Linked DNA regions of Homo sapiens. The protein of the gene in region 2 purifies or fractionates together with the protein of the main gene of each other region. This does not show direct contact. Each region holds a gene or a part of one and is shown on either strand. Other genes may lie near its edges. The genes, in order: ZNG1A, FOXRED2 and VWA8.

Evidence for each region.
Region 1: the proteins of FOXRED2 (region 2) and ZNG1A purify together in Homo sapiens (affinity purification with mass spectrometry; one large-scale study listed by BioGRID and IntAct). This does not show direct contact.
Region 3: the proteins of FOXRED2 (region 2) and VWA8 purify together in Homo sapiens (affinity purification with mass spectrometry; one large-scale study listed by BioGRID and IntAct). This does not show direct contact.

What each region holds. Positions count from the first base shown.
Region 1 is NC_000009.12:165,453-169,105, forward strand, and holds part of ZNG1A (zinc-regulated GTPase metalloprotein activator 1A), read right to left. Parts: intron 1-3,653. UniProt on the Homo sapiens protein: Zinc chaperone that directly transfers zinc cofactor to target metalloproteins, thereby activating them.
Region 2 is NC_000022.11:36,493,438-36,497,090, forward strand, and holds part of FOXRED2 (FAD-dependent oxidoreductase domain-containing protein 2 isoform 1 precursor), read right to left. Parts: intron 2,818-3,653; exon of another isoform or gene 2,772-2,817; coding exon 2,530-2,771; intron 367-2,529; coding exon 196-366; intron 1-195.
Region 3 is NC_000013.11:41,569,704-41,573,243, forward strand, and holds part of VWA8 (von Willebrand factor A domain-containing protein 8 isoform a precursor), read right to left. Parts: intron 1,004-3,540; coding exon 765-1,003; intron 1-764. UniProt on the Homo sapiens protein: Exhibits ATPase activity in vitro.

The DNA.
Region 1 (3,653 bases), on a different chromosome or scaffold from region 2:
ACATGAGAAAGATCTATTTAAAATTTGGATGTAGGTATTTAGGGGGAGTAAAGATGAATGAACAAAATTGATCAGTGGCTCTCAAATCAGGGTGCTTTTCTCCCCAGGGAATATTTGGCAATGTCTGAAGATGTTTTTGGTTGTCTTAACTAGGGGAATGCTACTGGCATCTAGTGGGTAGAAGCCAGGGATGTTGTTAAATATCCTACTCTGCACAGGGCAACCCCCTCACAACAAATAATTATCCAACCCAAAATGTTATTTGTGCTGACACTGAGAAAACCTGAACTACATTTTAGAATCTCCCTTCTTCAAAATCTAATAAAACAAAAAATAAAAACAAAAAATAAAACAAAAAGGCCAACATTTTATTAGCAGCAACCAAATATAAAAGGGCCTGCCATAAATTTTGAAGACTGATAGTCAAAATAAGAAACAAAGTTATATGTGATTGATGGTCATTCCCAACTCTACCCCTACCTCCAATAAGAGGTTGTAGGGAAATAGTTTACAAAATCCTAAACACTTACCAGAAATACACTCCAAAATGACAAAAAGTAGAGCCGAGGAATGAATAAGCAACACAAGGAAAAGTCAACAAAAAAATTTCAAGAGTGAGTTTTAACCATCTCTTTGCTTTGGGAAGGAGAAGGTCAGGTCACATTCTAGGGCTCAGAACAAAGAGAAATGAGAGCTCTGAGGTCGAATGATGTCCCCATACAAGGCAAAGGAATTTTATTCATAAGCAGTTGGGCAGACCCAAGAGTGAAATACTTGGTACTTCAAGAGAGCAGAGCCTAAAAGCCACATTGCCCCATTTGGCTCTCTGAATCACCACTTTTCCCTTCTCTTTCCCTCCACTCCAACAATATACAGCTTTCAAACTAGGGCTCAGGAGAAAAACAAACTTGGGTAAGGAGAGTGGAGTATTAAAAATATTTCCCATCAGCACCACATAGAAGTTCTCCCACATCAAGAAGAAACATGTATGCATATGTATTACAGCCTGACAAAAAGAAACACGCACATACAGGGAATAAAAAGCAAGAAAGAACACAAAATGAAGAAATGAATAGGGCACACAAGTGGCAAAGAACCCATTCTGGAAGGATACATAACCCAATAAAAACTAAAGAAAATTCTCAACAACTTCATCATAATGAAGAACTTGAAAACAATACAACCTTATAATAAACAAGCTCAAAAGCAAGAAGAAGCAGAATAAGATGAAAATGCGTTTGTAGCGCTAAAGAAACTTAGAGCCTATATAACACAATGACTTAACCAATTAATTCATTTAAAATATCAAAAACAGGACAGACACTGGAGAAAACAGAATTATTGACAAAAAGAAAGGCTTCAGATGATCACAGTAAATGCAAAGGTAAAAGACAAATCAAAGCAATTAGAATACATACGAACAACAAAAGAAAATTCAGTATTAAAAAAACTGGTGTCATGAAGTAGAGGATCTAATAATTTGACCAAAAAAAAGTATTCATGGTAATAAACAAGGAAAATGTTCTTAGAAGAACTAAGGGCATACTATAATTTAGGGAAAAATGATTATAAGTGACACTTAGATATACCTTGTTTATATTACTGAATTTCAAAAATAAAGAAGAAAACTCTCAGGCATTTTAGATTAAAAAAAAAAATTGCCTTCAAGGAGGTAGGGAGAAAAATCAGACTTTTCTACAGTAACACTAGATGTCCCAAAATAATAAAACAGGGACCACAAAGTTCTAATGAAAGTGTTCCCAAACAAGTTATTTTTCAGGAACGAAAGCAATAGACAGACATTCTCAAGCATTAAAGAAAACAGCAAGCATTGAAACTCAGAGACTATAATACTCACAAATTCTTCCTAATAAAAAGAGAAAACATTGGACAAAGAAATCCAGCCAATCAAACACTAGGAGATTATGGAACAACATTTACAAAGTTGAGGGGGAATAAAGTGTGACTGATAAATTTTATACCTAGCCAAGTAATCCTTCAAGTAATATAAAAACAAAAGACAAATATTTTGAATCAATGAAGTGTATAAGAACCCAAAGAATGCATGCAGTACCTGTAACTTGAAAAGACTGCCTGACAATGAAATTCAATCAGGAGATGGACTAACTCGGGAATGGAGAAGCAACAGTACTGGTAATAAGCACCAAAACTATTAAAACATAGAACTAAAAGAATTATGACAGAACCATGACAACATAAAGAATATGATCAACATGAAACTAGGCCAATTAATATCCTACAATGGCCTGTAAGTGTTCAAGTGAAAGGAACAGTCACCTGTTTCTCACTTTAAATCAAGAGCTAGAAATGATTATGCTTAGTGAGGAAGTTATGTTGAAAGCCAAGATACGCCAAAAGCTAGGTCTCTTGAGCCAGTTAGCTAAGTTGTGAATGCAAAGGAAAAGTTCTTGAAGGAAATTAAAAGTGCTACTCCAGTAAACACACAAATGATAATAAAACAGCCTTATTGCTGATATGAAGTGGTCTGGATAGATGATCAAACAAGCCACAATGTTCCCTTAAGCCAAAGCCTAATTCAGAGCAACCCTAACTCTCTTCAGTTCTATGAAGGCTGAGAGAGGTGAGGAAGCTAGAGAAGAAAAGTTGGAAGGTAGCAGAGGTTGGTTCACAAGATTTAAAGAAAGAAGCCATCTCCATAACATAAAAGTGCAAGGGAAAGCAGCAAATGCTGATATAGAAGCTGTAGTAAACTACCTAGAAGATGTAGCTAACATCATTCATGAAAGTAGCTACACTAAGCAACAGACTTATTTTTTATTTATTTATTTATTTATTTTGAGATGGAGTCTCGCTCTGTCACCCAGGCTGGAGTGCAATGTGCAATCTCAGCTCACTGCCACCTCCGTCTCCCGGGTTCAAGCCATTCTCCTACCTCAGCCTCCCAAGTAACTGGGATTACAGGCTCCCACCACCAAGCCAGGCTAATTTTTGGTATTTTTAGCTGAGATGGGGTTTCACTATGTTGGCCAGGCTGGTCTTGAACTCCTGAACTCGTGAACTGCCCACCTCGGCCTCCCAAAGTGCTGAGATTACAGGCATGAGCCACCGAGCCCGGCCAGCAACAGATTTTTAATGGAGATGAAATGGCCTCCTTTTGGAAGAAGATGCCATTTAGGACTTTCATAGCTATAGAGAAGTCAATGCCTGGCTTCAAAGATTCAAAGGACAGGCTGACTCTCTTGTTAGAGGCTAAAGCAGCTGGTGACTTCAAGTTGAAGCCAATAATCATTTACTATCCTAAAAATTCTAGGGCCATTAAGAATTATGCTAAATCTCCTCTGCCTGTTTTCTATAAATAATAAAGCCTAGATGACAGCACATCTGTTTACAGCACGGTTTAGTTTAAGCCCACCATTGAGATCTACTGCTTAGAAAAGAAAAGATTCCTTCAAAATATTATTGCTCATTGACAACGCACCTGATCACCCAAGAGCTGTGATGGAGATGTACAAGATTAATGTTGTTTTCATGCCTGCTAACACAACATCCATTCTGCAGCCCACTGATCAAGGAGTAACTTTGACTTTTAAGTCTTATTTAAGAAATATATTTCATAAGGCTATAGCTACCATAGACAGTGATTCCTCTGATGGATCTGGGCAAAGTAAATT
Region 2 (3,653 bases):
CAAAAAAAAAAAAAAGAAGACATATTATCCATTATTTTTAGGTGAGTTGTAATTTAACCCACGGCATTGTCGGGAACAGTAGTCTGGGGTTTGGATTTCCAGATATGGGTCCTGAAACTCCACGGGTCTTGGGTCTCTGTGACCTTTCTTCAACCTGGAGCTCAGACCCTTTGTCTTTCTGGGAGCTTAAGTTACCTGCATAGAAGCTTCGCAAATCGGTGTCCAAACAGTTCTCCAGGAAGCGCCTCAGAGGTAGGATGTGCCCGATCGGGGCAGTCCAGTCTGTTAAGAAGTCTTCCACGATGTGATGGATGGCCGTGGGCCGAGGCAGGGGCCAGTGTGCAGGGCGGAACCTCACCTCCTGTTCTGTGGGGAGGAGAGAGGGGGCCATGTCAGAGCTGTGAGGCTGGGCTTCCCCTCCTCGGGCCGACACAGCACGGATCCCACACAGCCCAAACACTTCCCTCGTTCACTCGTGCTCGGCTTTCCCGACAGCCTCCTATGCTGGGCTGTGGTCAGACTGTTCAAGAGCCACCTGCAGATATTTGAAAGGCTGCCATGAGGAAGAGGAACTAGGCTTTTCCCTTGTGGTTTCGGAAGGCAGTGCTGAAGCTAACAACGTGAGGCTGGCGTTTCCCTAAGACTCACATGGACTGAGATCTACTGTGGCTGCTTTTTATTTTGTATTATTATTTGTTGGAGACAGTCTCGCTCTATTGCCCAGGCTGTCATGCAGTGGCACAATTTAGGCTCACCGCAACCTCTACCTCCTGGGTTCAAGCGATTCTTGTGCCTCTGCCTCCAGAGTAGCTGGGATTACAGGTGCCCGCCACCACACCGAGCTCATATTTTACATTTTTCGTAGAGATGGGGTTTCTAGTCTCTACCATGTTGGCCAGGCTGGTCTCAAACTCCTGACCTCAGGTGACCCACCCGCCTCAGCCTCCCAAAGTGCTGGGATTACAGGCATGAGCCACTGCGCCTGGCTGTGGCTGCTTTCAAACTGGCCTTTCTCTGAGAAGACTCAGATAGAGGCGAGGGGTCTCAGCACTCATCTAGTTCAGCTTCTCCCTGGTGTGGGCTCCCTTCTGTGGTGTTCCAGTCAGATGGCCATCGAGTCAAGACTTGGCCGTCGCTATTCTGGGAAACCTGAATTTGGAGGTGACCAATTCCCCCACTGAACAGCTTTAACTCTTAGTGCCTCCTTTTTCTTTTTTTTTGAGACAGAGTCTCGCTCTGTCTCCCAGGCTAGAGTGCAGTGGCACAATCTTGGCTCACTGCAGCCTCTGCCTCCTGGGTTCAAGCGATTCTCCTGCCTCAGCCTCCCTAGTAGCTGGGACTACAGGCGCACGCCACCACGCTGGCTAATTTTTGTATTTTTATTAGAGACGGGGTTTCACTATGTCGGCCAGGATGGTCTCGACCTCCTGACCTCGTGATCCGCCCGCCTCGGCCTCCCAAAATGCTGGGATTACAGGCGTGAGCGACCGCGCCCGGCCTTTTTGTTTGTTTGTTTGTTTTTTTTGAGACAGAGTCTTGCTCTGTAGCCCAGGCTGGAGTGCAGTGGTACAATCTCGGCTCACTGCAACCTCTGCCTCCCGGATCCCGGTTCAAGCAATTCTCCTGCCTCAGCCTCCTGAATAGCTGGGATTACAGGCATGTGCCACCATGCCCAGCTAATTTTTGCATTTTTTTCATGTTTTTTTAGAGATGGGGTTTCACCATTTTGGCCAGGCTGGTCTTGAACTCCTGACCTTATAATCCGCTTGCCTTGGTCTCTCAAAGTGCTGGGATTACAGTCATGAGCCACCATGCCCAGCCTCTTAGTGCCTCCTTATACTGACCACAGACCTGCACCCGTCACTGCTACCTGCTGACACGACTTCTGCCTTTGGGAACAACCCCTGTTTAAACCACCCTCTTCTACCTGACTGCCCTTCAAGCTCTGAAGCAGGGGGTGCGTTCCCGAGGTTGTTCACTTATTGGTAGCTACTCTGTGCCTGCAGTGGGCTGGCATTCTGTGTACACTGTCAGGTTTAACCTCATGGAACCCTACAAGAAAGGTACTGTTGTAATCCCCATTTTACAGAGGGGAGGTTGAGGCTCAGAGAGGTTAAGTAATGGTCCAAGGTCACACAGTGACAAAATGACAGGCCTAGGGATTTTGCCCAGTTTCTCTGTACTGTGTTAACCAGCTCCAGTTCCCTCTACTCTTCAGACCCCTCCCGCCCCACCACAGTCAGCCGCCTCTGGAGACCTGCAGCAGGGCCGTGTCCCTCTTACTACACAGTGCCTGGCGGAGAGCACGACACCCCCCGCATGGCCTGTGCCAGTCACGGTATGTGTCAGAATCTGGAAGCATCGTTCATCATTCTCGGACCTTCTGCCCAAGTGGTCTCTAGGCAGAGTCCCGCAGCCATCCCACCTGTCAGCTGAGCATGTGTGTGAAGGTTTCAGGGTGGGTGACAACCTTGCAGACGGTGAGGTCTGAGGAGCCCACAGGTTGGGGAAGGGCAGAGACCTGCTCACCGGTGGGGAGGTATCTATAGTAGTAGATGACAGGATGAAGAAAGTTAGACTGCCAGGCATCTTCTGTGTGCCCCACAGACCGGTCATCAAAGAAGACGTCCTTGTCGGGGCCAGAGAAATTTCTGCCATATTCCATGTTGATGACGAAGAGCCCGTGCTTTGCCTTCCTCCCTGTGAGTGTCTCCAGCTGGGCCAGCATCTGTATGGGGAACTCCTCCAGGTACTCAAAGGCCGTGGAATTCCTGGGAGAACAGCAACGCGGGGGAGGCCCTCAGTGCTGTGGCAGAGGTGAGGGGTGCAGCCCGGGGGTGAGCATGTGTGTGTGCGTGTGTATCTCCCCCTCTAAGGAGCGTCAATCAAGCAGCACACCCCTCACTTAACATTACTTTTTCAGCTCAGCTCTCACGCACATGTGGGGTAGAGACCAGAAAATTCCATGTAACCTGAATGGGATATCTGGGGAAAGAGTGTCCCAGGCAGAGAGAACAGTCAGGAAAAAGCCCTGAGGAGTATGTGAGCACTTTGTGTTCAAGGAACAGAAGAGGCCGACGTGGCTGAGGGGAGTGAACAGCAGGCAGAGGGCAGGAGAGGGGGCCGGAGGCCTTGAGAGGTCAAGGAGGGCTGCGCCTCCCATGACGAGACGTGAGGAGTCGTCTGGCCCGAGAGGTGACACTGCTGGTTGCTTGGGAGGACTGAGCAGAGCTGGGATCAGCATGCCTCAGGTTTCTAAGGACCACTCTGGTTACTGTGCTGAGAACAGACGCCAGGCCAAGTGGGGCGGCTGTTGTATGGGTGCAGGTGATACAGCCTGGTGATCGGGACCGAGGTGGTGGTGGTAGAGCAGGTGAGAGCTGGTTGGGCTCCAGACATCATCTGAAGGCAGAGGTGACAAGACTTGCCCATGGTTTGCATGTGGGGTGTTGAGACAGGGGTGCCAGGCGTGCTGACTCACGCCTGTAATCTCAGCACTTTGGGAGACCAAGGCGGGTGGATCACCTGAGGTCAGGAGTTTGAGACCAGCCTAGCCAACATGGTGAAACCTAGTCTCTACTAAAAATACAAAATTAGCCAGGTGTGGTGGCATGGGCCTGTAATCCCAGCTACTCGGGAGGCTGAGACACGAG
Region 3 (3,540 bases), on a different chromosome or scaffold from region 2:
TTAAACACAGAAAAACCATGAGCTCTTTCTGTTTGTAATTCAAAAAGATAAATGTTATTGTGTTCAAGTTATGAAAGTGTTTCCAGATCTCTCCTTTCAGATCATACCCACTGGTATTTATTGTCTGATCATAAGATTCTCTATTGAATATTTAGTATATTCAGTGTAGTATCTAACTATATGTATATTATCTTATGTTGTCGCCAAGTGTTTCACCTGCCTTGTCTCTCCAGCAATAAGAAGGGATACATGTGAGTGTGTCTATATATATATACAGGCATGCATATATGTAGGTGATGTCTCTATGGGGATATAATACATATGTGTGTATATATATGTCTAATATGTACAGACATTCATACACACACACTATCTCCTATGCTAGGAAAATAGTAGATGTTCACGATTTTTAATATGATTTGAACACAAAATGATTAGCCTGAGCTTAGGAGCTTGACATAAAGTGCCAAATGTATAAAATACTACCCGGTTTATTAGTGACAAATCAATTTGTCAATGATTTATTAGTGGCTTAAATATAAACTAAAAAATAATTAATTTAAAATTATTATTGTTCATCTAAACAAAAGCTAGAACATATCCCCTCAACTAGATTATAAACCCCTTGAGGCTAGTAACTTTAGTTTCTGTTTTTCCTCCATCTGCCTCACTGTCCCTCATGGTGCTAAGCCTATAAAACAGCATGTGTTAGCTACTCAGTATCTCTGTACCTGCCCTTTTCTGTATGCTCAGATGACACTTACCTGGTTGCTTGATCACCTAAAGAGCCAATAAAAATGGCAAAAGCATTTACTTGAGGGTCTCTTGTGAGGATTTGAGCAAACTTAGCAGGATGTATTCCATATCGTGACAGATTTGCATCACTCAAGACTATGACAAAGTACTCATCAGCTTCTTCTTTGACAATTTCCTTGATGGCATGTTCTGTCCCTTCTAACGTGTGGTCCCCACTCATGCAGAACTGAGAGTGGGCATGCATTGTCTGGAGGTAAAAGAAGTTGCACAAAAGCCATGGCTGAGAAACTTCTTTTTTAACAAATACGATTATTTTTCTATTGACCATGAGCATGCATACATACCAATTATTACCCATGAGTAGTACATTCTAAGTTAGTTCTATTTAATTTGCATATTTGAGTGACAACAGTATACAGTGATATTTGTTATCTGGCATAGAATTTCATTAGATATAGGATATCATTCCAAAATTATCACAGTGGGCACTTAGTTTTAAGTGGAAGCTTGCACTTCCACTTAAAGTGAGAAAATATAAGAAAATATAAAACTTGGTATCACATTGGAGGATGCAGATGACACAGGAGGAAAATAAGGAATGAGTTGAGTTTCCAATAAACAAAGGTATAATACTAAAAACATTGTACTCACGTCAATAACGATGGAGGAAAGTGACTTAAAATTGTGATGTGCATTTTTCTGTTGCAGGCTTAAGTGTGTGAAATGAATTACACATAAAATTGGGGACAGGGAGCACTCTAAAAGCGGTCATTCTGCTTACCAATGATATGATTGTATATCTAGAAAACCCTGTCCCTCTCCCGTCTCCCTCTCCCGTCTCCCTCTCCCTCCTCCCTCTCCCTCTCCCGTCTCCCTCTCCCTCTCCCGTCTCCCTCTCCCTCTCCCCGGTCTCCCTCTGATGCCACCAAAGTTGTCAAAGCCGAGGCTGGACTGTACTGCCGCCATCTCGGCTCACTGCAACCTCCCTGCCTGATTCTCCTGCCTCAGCCTGCAGAGTGCCTGGGATTGCAGGTGCCCGCCGCCACACCTGACTGGTTTTTGCATTTTTTGGTGGAGACGGGGTTTCGCCGTGTTGGCCGGGCTGGTCTCCAGCTCCTGACTGCGAGTGATCTACCTGCCTCCGCCTCCCGAGGTGCCGGGATTGCAGACGGAGTCTCGCTCACTCAGTGCTCAACATTGCCCAGGCTGGAGTGCAGTGGCGTGATCTCGGCTCGCTGCAACCTCCACCTCCCAGCCGCCTGCCTTGGCCTCCCAAAGTGCCGAGATTGCAGCCTCTACCCGGCCGCCACCCCGTCTGGGAAGTGAGGAGCGTCTCTGCCTGGCCGCCCATCGTCTGGGATGTGAGGAGCCCCTCCGACTGGCCGCCCAGTCTGGGAAGTGAGGGGCGCCTCTTCCCGGCCGCCATCCTGTCTAGGAAGTGAGGAGTGTCTCTGCCCGGCCGCCCATCGTCTGAGATGTGAGGAGCCCCTCTGACCGGCCGCCCAGTCTGGGATGTGAGGAATGCCTCTGCCCGGTGGCGACCCCGTCTGGGAATTGAGGAGTGTCTCTGCCCGACCACCACCCCATCTGGGAGGTGAGGAGTGTCTCTGATCGGCTGCCCCGTCTGAGCAGTGAGGAGCCCCTCCGCCCGGCAGCTGCCCGTCTGCGAAGTGAGGAGCCCCTCCGCCTGGCAGCCGCCCCGTCCGGGAGGGAGGTGGGGGGTCAGCCCCCGCCCCGCCAGCCGCCCCGTCTGGGAGGGAGGTGGGGGGCGCCTCTGCCCGGCTGCCCCGTCTGGGAAGTGAGGAGCCCCTCTGCCAGGCTGCCACCCCGTCTGGGAGGTGTACCCAACAGCTCATTGAGAATGGGCCATGATGACGATGGCGGCTTTGTCGAATAGAAAAGGGGGAAATGTGGGGAAAAGAGATCAGATTGTTACTGTGTTGGTGTAGAAAGAAGTAGACATGGGAGACTCCATTTTGTTCTGTATTAAGAAAAATTCTTCTGCCTTGGGATGCTGTTAATCTATAACCTTACCCCCAACCCCATGATCTCTGAAACATGTGCTGTGTCCACCCAGGGTTAAATGGATTAAGGGCGGTGCAAGATGTGCTTTGTTAAACAGATGCTTGAAGGCAGCATGCTCCTTAAGAGTCATCACCACTCCCTAATCTCAAGTACCCAGGGACACAAACACTGAGGAAGGCCGCAGGGTCCTCTGTCTAGGAAAACCAGAGACCCTTGTTCACATGTTTATCTGCTGACCTTCCCTCCACTATTGTCCTATGACCCTGCCAAATCCCCCTCTCCGAGAAACACCCAAGAATGATCAATAAATACTAAAAAAAAAAAAAAAAAAAAAAAAGAAACAGGCCGGGCGCGGTGGCTCACGTCTGTGGTCCCAGCACTTTGGGAGGCCGAGGCTGGCAGATCACAAGGTCGGGAGTTCGAGACCGGCCTGGCCGGCATGGTGGAACCCTGTCTCTACTAAAAATACAAAAAATTAGCTGGGTATGGTGACATGCGCCTGTGATCTCAGCTGCTCGGAGGGCTGGGACAGGAGAGTCGCTTGGGTGTGGGAGGCGCAGGTTGTAGTGAGCTGAGAATGTACCACTGCACTCCAGCCTGGGCGACAGAGCAAGACACCGTTTCAAAAAAAAAAAAAAAAAAAGAAACAAGCCAGGCACGGTGGCTGACGCCTGTAGACCCAGCACTTTGAGGTGGGCAGATCACCTGAGATTGGGAGCTCAAGACCAGCCTGGCCAACATAATGAAGCCCCATCTCTA